Homo sapiens: one gene and its partners. The protein of the gene in region 3 interacts with the protein of the main gene of each other region in a biochemical or structural test. Each region holds a gene or a part of one and is shown on either strand. Other genes may lie near its edges.

Region 1 (2,547 bases), on a different chromosome or scaffold from region 3:
GCAGTGCAGTGTGAACAGGGCCCATGGTGTATTCTAGGCCACAGCCCAGCACTCCTCTGGGCTGCTCTCAAACCATGTCCCATCTTCAGCATCCCTCCCACCAACTTACTCCCCTGTGGTGAGTACCGTGGAACCCCAGCCCACCTCACTATCATACTCAGCTTCCCCTGATGGCCCATCCCAGCCCCTGAAGCTCTATGCCAAGAACACAGCTACCGCACACCACCCTGAAACAGCCACAGCCAAGGTAGGCATGCATATGAGGTCTTCCCCATACCCTCTGGGTGTTGAGAGGTTTAGCCACATGAGGGAGCAGAGGACAATCTCTGCAGGGCTGGGAGTGGGTAGGGACTGAAGGTCTCAATAAACCTTCAGAACCTGAATGAACTGGCTTCATACACACAAACATATTTGTTTATCCCCCAAATGTAGGCACCTGGCTCCTCCTTGCTCCCCTGCTGATGGTGTCCTACCCCGAACTCCAAAAATTACACCTGGAGTCAGGTGCAGAAGGGAACCTTGTATTTCACAGGCCTCATTTTGATGGCAAAAAGACAGTGTAATAATAACATAATAATAATAAAAATATAATACTGAAAAGGATTGTTCAGGGGGAGTTGGGGTCTCCCGATCCTGCCATGGCTCGGTGGTGGCTCAGGTGGCTGCTTAAGGCTGAAAGGTGGGTCTGAGATGAACCTGCAGAATAATCCAAGCCGAGCCTCACCTGCTGGGTCCAGGGCTAAAGCCTTTGAGAATGCTCCCATGGATCCTGGAACTAGGTCTACTGTGGCAGCAAGGCACAGGCTGGGGGCCTCAGGGGTCCTGGAGGTCAGGCAGGTCAGCCAGCAGCATTGGGGAGTCCATCTGGATCTCACGCTGCAGGGACTCAATATCGGCAGGGTTCATGCCATGGCCTTCGAGCCAGTCAGCAAGCAGGGAGGCTGAGAGAGAGGCTGAATCTGCCTGGCTGCAGGGGAAGGAAAGGGAGGGGTGCTATTAGCCTAGGCTGGACCCTCACCCATCCCACAGGTGCATGTCTCCTGCACCAGGAACCTCTCCCCACAGTCCCAGTCTAGGAGCTCAGTCCAGCCACCTTACCCATCCTGTGGCCCATCAGCCACGCCCATGTCGAAAGACTGGTTTAAGAATTCCTCCAGGTCAAAGCCAACACCGTAGCCAGCCCCACTGCCCTTTGGTGTGCCTGAGAACACAGGGGGCAGGGGGTCCTCCACCTGCAGGGAATGACAGGTTACAATGCAGACAGACTGAGGTCTGTAGGCCACCCTGTCCCAATGCTGCTGACTACTCCGCCTGGATATCTGGGAGTGCTAACACCAGTCTCGGCAGTCAGTGAGTGCTGGCTGGCCCCATCTCTGGGCTAGGCACTTTGCAGGCCATATTTAACTTGTCTCCTAACAACCTCTTCATTGCCATTATGCTCCTTCTGTGAGCAAGAGGACACGTTCAGAGATAAAGCCCCATCTGCTGCTCAGTTTTTGTGGAACACTGACCGCTTCCTGAACCCATTTTCCTTTGGCCCAGACCCAGGTGTCCCCATGGCCTGGGCCTCCCTCTCACCTGTGACTTAGATAGCTGCTGGGTCACAAGGTTGACATCAGGTGACTCTGACATGGAAGACTGAGGGGCTCCCCCGGCGTCTGGGGGCGGCAGGCCAGGTGGGAAGTAAGGCAAAACTCCTGGGGTGCTGGAGCCAGGCAGCCCAGGGGGTGGCACAAGTGACTGGGCAGCCAGGAGGCTGGTGGAGGTGGCAATCTGGGGTGGCGCGGGGACAGGGATGGGCCCAGGAGGGCCAGTGGGGTGGGGTGCAGGGCCAGGGGGTGGGCAGGCAGGCTGGGGTACAGGGCCAGAGGTAGAGCCCGCAGATTGTGGTTGCGGGCCAGTGGGCTGGGCTACAGGGCCAGGAGGAGGACTGGTAGGTTGGACTGGGGTTGGGGTTGGCGTTGGCGCTGGGGCAGGGGCCGGCACAGAGGTGAGGGCTGGGGCTGCGGGCCGGGCCATTCGAGTCCAGCGTTCCAACAGGCTTCTGTCATTGTCACTGAGCACTAGTCCAGCCAAGGGGTCAGTGGAGGGGCCCCCAGAGGCCCCAGCCCCCCGTTCCTTTCGCTCCCGCTCCTGCCGCCGTTTCTCCCGCTCCTTGGCTCGTTCTTGCCGCCTCCGCCGCTTCTCCTCCCGCTCCCGCTGGCGCTCCTGGGCTGTCACCGGCTTCCGAGGCTCAGGAGCCTCCAGGGGTGCGCTGGGGCCATCTGCGGGGAAGTTGGGCAGGGGAGAAGGTAAAAGCCTGAAGCCTTGTCCAAGTCCAAGTCTCCCCTCTGCCCACCCGACCTGCCCACAAGGCACCTCTGAGCCGGCTCCTCAAAGACTTGAGCAGGGCAGCTTTAAGGGCAGCCTTAGTATTGTCTGAGATGGCACCATCTTTCTTTGGTGGGGCAGGCTCACTGACTGGTGGAGGTGGCTGCAGGGTCAGATCAATGGTGTCAGGTGCAGGGCCGGGGCATGGTGGCGGGGCTGGTGGTGGAGACTCCATGG
Region 2 (3,500 bases), on a different chromosome or scaffold from region 3:
CAGCCTGGGCAACAAGAGTGAAACTCCGTCTCAAAAAAATAAATTAAAAAATAAAGTCGTCAGCCTTATCTTTTCGCCTTCTTTGTCCCAACTTCTCCTTTCACTCTTTCACGCTGTCTTTTGAGCTGGGTAAAGCTGAAGCTGACAGTTTGAGTGGGAAACAGTCACTCCATTTTTCACAGAGCCCTACAGTCTTAGTACATTCCCTCTATTCACATCTCCCCCACCTTCTCTGCAATTGCACACCTCCCATGACAGGGCTCTCACCACCTCACCTGTGGCCCATTTCATTCTTAGCCAGCTTAGAATCTTCAGAGGGCAGACTATTGAGAATTGTTAATTACACTGAGTACAGTTTATCTCACTGTATTCTCTGCTTATTGGTCTTGCTTCTATCCACCAACCACCCTCTCCCCAAATACAGGACATCTTTCTAGTTATTGTTCTGATCCCCCCCAATCTGGAAACAAACAAAAGTCCCTACTAATTTAGAGCCAGGCACTCTGCTAAATGAGATGATCTGGAGATTTTGTTTCATCCTCACGACCACCCTGTGAGGGGGGTACACTCATTATTCCCATTTTACAGAGGAGAATGATGAGTCTCAGAGACTTTTGGTAACTTTCCCAAGGTCACACAATAAGTAAGATGCAAAGGAACGGGAATGCAAACTCAGGCCGGCCTGACTCCAAAGCCTATATTCTTTCTTTTTTTTAGAGACAGGGTCTCGCTCTGTTGCCCACGCTGGAGTACAGTGGTGTGGTGGCATGATCATAGCTCACAGCTCACTATAGCCTCAAACTCCTGGGCTCAAGTGATCCTCCCGCCTCAGCCTCCTGAGTAGCTGGGACTACAGGTGCGCATCACCACAACTGCCAAAACCTGAATTCTTGCCCGTCATGCCAGACTGTCTGTCTCCTGACCAGAAACAGTTCTGTCCATCTGTCCACAGAGAAACGTTCTCCCTCTAATGGCGTCCATACGGAATCCAGGATCTCAGGGATGAGAAGATCCTCAGGGATCTGGGTCCCGCCTCTGCTCTGACTGAGGGGCAGTGTATGCGGGAGGCCTGCCCCGGGTCACCAATAATTTTAAAGTCGAGCTAGGGATAGAACCCAGGACTAGGGATAGAACTCCACAATTTCGCTGCAGAGGCTGAGGGTGAGCACACAAGGCTGAGGAGAGAGTTTTTGCTTAGGAAAGCCAGGGTCTGGCAGGGGCAGTGCTCCTGCGGGATACAGCATCCAGGCAATCAGCCCAGGTGTGTGGCCGGCTCTGCCACAGGCCTGCTGTGCACAGGGTCCAGGCCTGCCCCTGTGGGGGCCCCAGCACCCCCTTCCACTGTTTGCAGAGGGCCAGGGCCTCTGTAGCTGCAGAGTTCCAGGCCTCCACCATCCTGCTGCTGCCCTCCCCATCCCCACCCCCCAGAGCCTCATCTCCGGCCGGTGCCATGGCAACAGGGAGTGCCAGGCCCTTGGCAGCCAAAGGAGCCCCTGAGAGGGGTCCCAGGCTGAGACTGAGGAGGGGGGTGCGGCAGGCGCAGACAAGCAAACCTTCTGTTCCCCGGGCTGCTGCCAGCCCGGAGCAGCCATGGGCTGGGGTGGGGGCCGCAAATAGAATGGGTTCTCAGAGCCAAGTGGGCAGGGGACAGGCAGGCCTTGGGCCATTCACACTGACCCACCAGCACACAGCCTTCCCCCACAGGCCCAGGGCCTGCAAATAGGGGAGGGGTAGCTAGCTAATGAGTAAACCCTTCACTTATCAGTGCCAATTACCAAACATTGAGATTCCCCTCAGAGCCCTCCTGGGCGGCAGAGCAGGAGGGCAGAGAACCCCCATGTTTCACTGACCCTCTCACTGTCTCAGCATCTGTCCTCCCACCCCTGTCTTCGGTCATTCACTTAACCACCCCTCTGTGCCTCAGTTTTCTCATCTGTAGATTGGGGCTCATCACTGGGTTGTCAGGGCTATTGAAGGAGTTAACACAAGCAAAATGCTTAGAATAGGGCCTGGCACACAGCCCTCTGCAAAGTTGGTGGCCACATTATTATTATTCATTCACTCAAGGGAGAAGAAGTCACTCACTCACTCGGCCTTGCGCGCACAGCCAAGACTCCACGGGACTAGGCTTCTCAGCAAAGTGATGCATGTGATAAATGAGACGGTGCAAGAAGGCCTCTCCCAAAAGACGCTCCTCAGGAAGAGGTAGCTGCTGATTATTGGTACAATCAGTAGCAACAGCCCTTTTCAGTGTCCTGAGGCTCAGTGAGGAGTGTCTCATCCTAGCACACTCGGCGATTCGGTGGCCAACCTAAGGCCAGACCCATCTAATCACCACTGTCTGTCAATTACTTCTTTCCTGAACTTTTGTCTTAGTCCTTTAATATGACTTCCCACAAATCAGGATACCTACCTAACAACGATCTGGACTCTCTTCAACTTCCTAATATGGAATTAGGCCTACAGTAGGTGCTCAGTAAACGCTTACACGATATGAGAGATTAAATGGCTCTGTAGGGTCAGCTCTTCAGTCCTGGGCCCTCGGCTGCCTCCTAATAACACAGGATTCACTAGGCTAGGGAACTGGCATGGATAGGCAATGGTGACTCTTTCCTTCCAGGGAGGTGATGGAGATGAGCTGGTGAGGGCAGAACAGACATATGGCACTCTGAAGCCAACAGGCTGCGCCTGATGCCATCCAGGGCAGGGATGGGAGCCCCGCCAGGCTGGGAGCAGTGGTTCCAGCTGGAAGCCACTTATTCCTGGGTCCAAGCCCCAGTTCTCTGAGTTTAACTTATCTGAGTCCCAATTTCCTGGGAAATGGCATGGGAGACCTCCTTTTCCATTTCTGGGAGGGCCAGAGATGATGACGCACAGCACTTGGCACATCATAGGTGCCCAGTAAATGGTGACTAACAACAGTATATGATTACTCCAGTGGGGAGAGCGGGTATGGCTTCCTGAGGGAGGTGGCCTTGAGCTAGGCCTCCAGGGTTTCTTGAGTTTTTTGGCAGATGATGCCAGGGAAAGGTATGGCCAGGGCTCTGTGAGAGATGAAAGGCATCTGGGAGAAATGGCAGGGAGAGATCTGTTGGGCTAGAAACTGGGGCTCTTCAGCAAACAGGTAGGTGATGGCCTGGGAAGGAGGCAGCAGGAGGCCAGGGAAGGAGGCAGGGAGACTTCAGGAAAGGTCTGCGGTGCTGTGTGAGGATTTTCTCTGGACCACCAACTTTTCAAGGTGTTGATAGTGATGGCGGGTAGTAGCTGCTGGCTTGGCAGGGCAATGCTGTAACTCCAGGCACTGTGGGGAGGGGGCCTCCATGCAGGAGGATGACACCAGCAGGCTGGCATTTAGTGGGAGGCTGTGGATTAGGATGGGGACAGTGGAGGCTGCAAGGCCAGTGTTGGGGATGAAGCCGTCCCAAACTCAGCCTGAACTCCCTGGCAGGACAAGCTACATAATTTGTGGGGCAAGCACAAAATGGAAATGCAGGGCTCTT
Region 3 (3,500 bases):
CCTCACTCCAGAGCCTCCTAACCAGTCCTATTTGACCAGATGGTACCAAAGAGTAACAATAACAATAACAATAATAATAGTTGACATTTATGGTATTGATATGTGCTTGGCTATGTGCTAAACATGTTAAGTGATAGTCCCATTTATTTCTCACAACAATGCTATAAAGTAGGAACTATTGTTTTTATTGTCGCATCATTTGCAGATGAAAAAACTGAGCACTGCAGAGATTGTGTAGTTGGGTAAAATATCTAGTAAGTGGTGGAGACAGAATTTGTCTTGACAACAGTGTATGCTGTCTTTTTCCCTCTTAACATACTCTGGTCCCCCCTGGTAATGAACTTGGCACCATTCTCTCAGCTAGCTGGGGTTCTCTTGACATTTTTATTTGACCTTACTCTTTTTTGGTAAACTAACTCCTGCTTAGCAGTAGGTATTTTCACTTAATGTATTATACCTCCTGGGAAAACAAACGTGTACTGGAAAAGAAATATCTGACGCACAATAAAATTTTAAAGAGTTTATTTAGTAAGAAGCCAGTCATACATTGGGAAACACCAGACCAAAAGAGGTTTAGTGTTCCAATGACAAAACGCCAGAGGCAAGTATTTATTGGGAAAGTACAGAAACAAACAATTTATTTGGTTGGTTTGCAATTACATAATTGCCTTTTTTCAGGTACTGTATTGGAAAGTCCTTACTGACATAACAATATGTGAGTTGGATGCTTATGATTGGCTGGGGTTATGTTTTAGTTCTAACATAAGCATTTATCAGATATGAACCTGAGGTAAGTTTCACTTCTGTTTGCAATTTAAGGTGCATGCATATTGGTGCACACCTGTAGTCCCAGCTACTTGGGAGGCTAAGGAGATCAGTTGACCTGGGAGGTTGAGGCTGCAGTGAGCCACGATCCAGCCAGGATGACACAGTGAGACCCTGCCCCAAAAAGAAAAAGAAAAAAAAAGTAAGAAAAAGAGTACCCTTGTTTCTCACCTCCCAGAACCACTTTGTATTGGGAACTTTATATCAGTAATATAGATCCAGATTTTAGCAAATCCATGAAACCTATCTGACCTAAGAGCTTCCTGGAGTCAAGTCAGAGCTCTCCTGAGGATGAATAACTATAGAGCTCTCTTGAGAGTTCCATAGTTAACCAAGCTTTATACATTTATTCCATAAATATATTTTGTATACAGACACTGTACTAGCTTCTTAGGTGTTTCTTTTTTTGCTATGACCAGCCTATCTAAAAAACTGCATTTGCCAGGCATGGTGGCTCATGCCTGTAATCCCAGCACTTTGGGAGGCTGAGGTGGATGGATTGCCTGAGCCTAGGAGTTCAAGACCAGCTTGGGCAACATGGCAAAACCCTCTCTCTCTCTTAAAAAACAAAACAAACAAAACAAACACAAAAAACACACACACACAGAAAAAATTAGCTCAGTATGGTGGCATGCACCTGTCATCCCAGCTACTTGGGAGGCTGAGGTGGGAGAATCACCTGAGCCTGGGAGGCCAAGGCTGCAGTGAGCTGTGATTGCATGACTACACTCCAGCCTGGGCAACAAAGCAAGACCCCATATCAAAAATAAGAAGAAAGAAGACTCTGTTGACCTTTCTAAGAATGGATTACCTGTTATAGAGCAAATGCTATCCTCTGGCCTCAACCTCCTGTGTAGTTGGGACCACAGGCATATACCACCATGTCCAGCTAATTTTTCTTTTAAATTGTAGACAGGGTCTAACTATGTTACCCAGGCTGGTCTCGAGCTCCTGGGCTCAAGTGATCCTCCCACTTTGGGCTCGAGTGATCCATCCAGCACTCCCAAAGTGCTGGGGTTATAGGCATGAGCCACTGCATCCAGCCAATAGACTATTCTATATATCAATATATGCAATAGGACATTTATTTAATATTTTCAGAGATGATTATGATGAGTTCCTGAATTTGAACCAGCCTCCAGTGAATGCATCCTGGAATACCTTTTGCTTTCTTTTAGCCTAGAGTTTATCTGTTTTCACATGACATGAAAATAGCATGACCTGGGTAATTCATTTGACAAGTATTTACCTAGGACTCGTAAGTGCTTTTTATTGTTACAAGTAGAAGAAGACCATGCCATTATGCTTGTAGGTCTTTAAAGGACCTACAACCTAGTTGGAAATAATTATAGAATGGGATTAGATAGTATATATCATGATATCAACTTACTCATATTAAAGACCCTACTTTGTCTCTTTTTCTATTTTTTAATAATGCCTTAGATAAAAAGATGTAAGGGATCCTTGTTAAATACCTGGGAGACACAACGCTGGGAGTGAGAAATGGAAGACTAATATATTGACGATAGATAGTGATCCAGTAAACAAGAGCATTGTGCTGAAACTAACAAGTTGAAATTAACAAGAATAAATAGAAAGCCTTGCATTTAGTTTCAAAAATCCAGTAGCATAATTACAGGATGGGAGAAAGCTATAATGTCCACATTCAAAAAAAGTCTTGTTGACTTTTTATTTAATCTACACCGTCAGTTAGTATCTTAAAATACTACCGAGAACCAGGCACCATGTAGGCACTGGGGGACCTCACCACCTGATGCACCTGCAAACACAGATCTATTGGTCTCTAACGTGCAGCTGGAAGAGAAAATAAGCCTGCTTCATAGATCTCATCAGAAGGAGACACAACTCTCTAAGAAGGTCATATTTGATAAAATAGCCTGTAGAAGAGGGAGACTAGAGTGGTGAGTGACAGAAAAACCAGGCTGTACAGAAATATTGAGTGACCACAGGATGTTTAGTCTAAAGAAGAAAAGATTATAGGACTTTGATGGCTGTTTTCCAGCCTTTGGAGAGCTGTTGTGTGACTACAGGGGAGCCTTAAGACGTCTTTTGGGTTATTTCAGTTGGACCAATGCGGTGAAAGTTAGAAAGGACAGATTCATGTTGATGTCTTAAAAGTTTTCCTGCCAACCTTGGAAAAGGCTGCCTCTAAAATTGCAAGATTTCTAAAAAAGCTATATTGTCAGTGACTAGAATGGATGATCTCTAAGAATTCCTCTGATGCCAGTTTTTTTCATTTTTATTTTCCAAATTAAGTGGGAGGTAAGAGAACTTTTCATATACTTTCCTGAAGCCTTCAGACCTGCAAGAATTTTGCCAGCCCACAATTAATGAGTATGCTTCTCCATCTTCCCCACTTTCACTGGCTAAAACAACCTTGATTTAGTGAACAGAATGTCATAGTAAATATACTCCAACCATTAAATTACACCACTGACCCACTTAGGGTGAAACAGTTATTAAATTCTAAACTGTGTCTCCATTCATTCACCAGTTGGACATGTAAATACCAGTGCTGACCAGAACATACAAGAAGGGGAAAATCTTGCCTCAAAGTGAGGTAAATGGTGAGAGGAAGCTGACAGACCAGAGCCTAAGAGGTGGAGCACATAGAAGCTTCCACATACTGTCTGCAGCTCAAGAGGGAGTAATGG
Region 4 (3,500 bases), on a different chromosome or scaffold from region 3:
TTTAAAAAGGGGCAAGTTTCTTATTAGTAGAATGGTAGATTCTTCCAAGTAACATTGAGGGGTTAAAATTATGGACTAATTGTCTTTAGGTATAAGTACTCAGAGAATATATTCAAAATCTAAATAAATAAAAACCCAATTGCTAAATCACAAGGTTTAAAAGCTGTGTATAAAACCCCACTTCCCCATCTGAGGAAGTGAAATATTTTTACTTGCAGGCTTTAAAAGGATCACTGAGGGAAGAAAAGACATTTCTTCCCACTCCCACCATCTCTATTTCTGAGAATCCCAAATGCATCCAACATGGAATTAAATAAGGCCCTAAATAACCAAGGCGAGTAATACCTGTCTGGTTGTAATGCATCCAGTTCAGCATGATCTCAGGAGCCCTGTACCACCTAGTGGCCACGTAGCCTGTCATTTCATCATCTGTGTGCCGAGCCAGTCCAAAATCCAGAATCTAAAGGGCAGAAGAGGAACAGACAAACTGCTAAGACTTAGAAACAGGCAGGGAAAAAAAAACAAAACAACAACAACAAACAAACCTCTGTTGCCTTATTAAAAAGGAGAACAAAATAGCACTTTCATAAAGAGATTTCCTGGTCCATACTTAGAATGTATGGTAAATATACAGCAAGAACTTAAAATGAAATTACAAAAAGCAAAACAAAAATGTCACTCCCAGGTATTTAATCAAGTGCAATGAGAACTTACGTCCATACAAAGGTTTGCACATAAACATTCACAGTTGCTTTACACAGCCTCAAACTCAAGCAAATGTCCATCAGCAGGTGGATAGATTTAAAAATTCTGTTATGTTCATAAAACAAAATACTATTACCAATAAAAAGGAAGAAACCACTGACACACACAACAATACCGAATCATTACACCAAGCAAAGGCCAGACACACAAAAATACACACTATATGATTCCATTTACATGAAACTCCAGAAAAGATAAACCTAATCTATAGTGTTAGAAGCAGATCCATAGTTGCCTGGAGCCAGAGTTAGGGGTGGAGGGGTAGGGATTGACTAGGAAGGGACACAATAAACTTTTTTTTTTTTTTTTTTTTTTTTGAGACGGAGTCTTGCTCTGTTGCCCAGGCTGGGGTGCAGTGGCACTATCTCGGCGCACTGCAAGCTCTGCCTCCCAGGTTCACGCCATTCTCCTGCCTCAGCCTCTCAAGTAGCTGGGACTCCAGGTGCCCGCCACCATGCCCAACTAAATTTTTGTATTTTTAGTGGAGATGAGGTTTCACCGTGTTGGCCAAGATGGTCTCTATCTCCTGACCTCATAATCCACCCGCCTTGGCCTCCCAAAGTGCTGGGATTACAGGCATGAGCCACCACGCCTGGCCATAAACTTTTTAAAGTAATCCAAATGTTCTTGGCTGGGAGCAATGGCTCACACCTGCAATCCCAGCACTTTGAGAGGCCGAGGCAGGTGGATCACGAGGTCAGGAGATCGACACCATCCTAGCCAACATGGTGAAATCCCATCTCTACTAAAAATACAAAAATTAGCCGGGTGTGATGGCGTGCACCTGTAGTCCCAGCTACTCGGGAGGCTGAGGCAGGAGAATCGCTTGAACCCGGGAGGCAGAGGTTGCAGTGAGCCAAGATCACACCACTGCACTCTAGACTGGGCAACAGAGTGAGACTGCATCCCAAAAAAAAGGAAAAAAAAAGAAATGGTCTTTATCATAAATGTGAGTTAAGTGGATATATAATTTTGCCAAATGAAATGGTGCATTCTAATGTACAGACATTTTTTCAAGTTAAAAAAATGAAATGGAACAAAAGTTCTAGAGCTGCTTGCTATTTAGAAACAATTAATTCACTTATTTTTTATTTGAATTATTTTGAGTGAGTGGGTTTCTGCCATTTCTCCTCTTAGAAATGTATTTAATCTAGTTATCACCTCTTTGGGCCTACTTACTTGATATTTGACTATTATCCTCCTTTATTATGACTAATATATCAAATTTATAATTTAACTTTATGTTAAAATAAAAACAAGTGATGCCACTTTCAATGTCACTTAGCTTACTCAGAAATGGTTTAAATTTCAAAGTCTGATAATAAAAATAATACGAATTTCAGATAGTCATGGCTCACAAAGCTACTCCCTAAGAAAGTCTGCCTGCTTAGTCAAACATATAATCTCAAAGTAAAGCAAACAATGAATACTGTCTCTTCATTTTACCTTCAGCTCACAGTCTTCATTCACAGCTAGATTACTAGGTTTTAGGTCCTAGGAAGCAAATACAGGGAAGACAGGATCAACTTTATGATGCATGATCAATTCTCCCCCTACAGGTAATAATGAGGATCCAGACATAAAAGACTTCATCCAGCTATCAAAAGACAATCTCCATCCTACAGTCAATATCCAGTCCAAGTTAGCCTTACATAGAAAAAAACTACACATCTTCTTTCTTTAATCAGCTTAAACCTACAGTAAAGTTGCAATCAATCAACATTTCAATGGCTAAAGTTTAGATTAGGATCTTGGCTAAATGCCATTCTTCCACTCTCACCCCACTTCCCCAAAATAATGTAATCAAAGTCACAATACATACCCTGTGAATTATGTCAGCTGAATGTATATACTGCAAAAGAGAAAAAAGTCAAAGTTACCTCCAACCTTCTATTGTCATATTATATAACATATTTGCTGCACATTTTCATGAATCAGTAAGAACTGCTAGTGTTAATAGTAAGATTAGAAATCAGCATAAGTAACTATCAGTATTGTGTACATTTACCATTACTATAATTTCCACAGCCATTGACTCCACTCAGTTGAGCTTTTAATCTATTTTCTGGTTGGCACTCTGGAGCTCAATAAGGACTCAAAGCAGCTAAATATCAAAGATGGGTTTAATTTTAAAACACTGTTTATCTGCCCCTCCAACAAATAAATTAGTCTTTCTTGAGGATTTTTTGAAAATCTCAACATTACGCTGACCAGATATTAGATTACATCAATAAATTATTGTTTAGATGTAAGAATGAAGAGTCCTTATCTTTCAGATATGCAAACTGAAGTATCTATGGATGGTATTATATAATGTCTAGACTTGCTTTAAAATAATCCAGGGCTTGGGAAATACAAAAGAAACATGATTGGCCATATGTCGGTAACTGTTGTCACTGAGTGAACATGGCAGTTTACTGTACTATATGACCTTTACCTGTGATTTTATGTGTTTGAATTTTCCATTAGAAAAGTTGTTTACTTGTTTGTTTAAGCCCTAAAAGGAGGGGAGAAAGGGAGAATTCATTTTAAAAAATTATTACTTGTATTATCTGTACCTTTAGACCTCGGAGAATTTGGTAGATAAGGAACTGAACATGGTCATCTGTAAGCTTCTGACATTTCACAATGTTGTTCAGATCTGCCCCCATGAGATGGGTCACCAGATACCTAGAAATTAGTGAAAAGTTACATAACAATCTAGAACCCCTAAGAAAGTTCTTATCTTCAGAAGA

The links. The genes of interacting proteins can lie anywhere in the genome.
Region 1: the proteins of PTPRR (region 3) and MAPK7 form a complex in vitro, tested with the Homo sapiens proteins (one study listed by BioGRID).
Region 2: of the proteins of PTPRR (region 3) and PDGFRB, one has a biochemical effect on the other in vitro, tested with the Homo sapiens proteins (one large-scale study listed by IntAct).
Region 4: the proteins of PTPRR (region 3) and MAPK14 form a complex in vitro, tested with the Homo sapiens proteins (one study listed by IntAct).

Annotation. Positions count from the first base shown.
Region 1 is NC_000017.11:19,381,498-19,384,044, reverse strand, and holds the end of MAPK7 (mitogen-activated protein kinase 7), read right to left. Parts: coding exon 2,359-2,547; intron 2,265-2,358; coding exon 1,579-2,264; intron 1,233-1,578; coding exon 1,099-1,232; coding exon of another isoform or gene 1,095-1,098; intron 968-1,094; coding exon 814-967; 3' UTR 501-813; downstream 1-500. UniProt on the Homo sapiens protein: Plays a role in various cellular processes such as proliferation, differentiation and cell survival. The upstream activator of MAPK7 is the MAPK kinase MAP2K5.
Region 2 is NC_000005.10:150,145,846-150,149,345, forward strand, and holds part of PDGFRB (platelet-derived growth factor receptor beta isoform 1 precursor), read right to left. Parts: intron 1-3,500. UniProt on the Homo sapiens protein: Tyrosine-protein kinase that acts as a cell-surface receptor for homodimeric PDGFB and PDGFD and for heterodimers formed by PDGFA and PDGFB, and plays an essential role in the regulation of embryonic development, cell proliferation, survival, differentiation, chemotaxis and migration.
Region 3 is NC_000012.12:70,641,239-70,644,738, reverse strand, and holds part of PTPRR (receptor-type tyrosine-protein phosphatase R isoform 1 precursor), read left to right. Parts: intron 1-3,500. UniProt on the Homo sapiens protein: Sequesters mitogen-activated protein kinases (MAPKs) such as MAPK1, MAPK3 and MAPK14 in the cytoplasm in an inactive form.
Region 4 is NC_000006.12:36,072,808-36,076,307, reverse strand, and holds part of MAPK14 (mitogen-activated protein kinase 14), read right to left. Parts: intron 3,436-3,500; coding exon 3,324-3,435; intron 2,618-3,323; coding exon 2,588-2,617; intron 2,260-2,587; coding exon 2,212-2,259; intron 461-2,211; coding exon 346-460; intron 1-345. UniProt on the Homo sapiens protein: Serine/threonine kinase which acts as an essential component of the MAP kinase signal transduction pathway.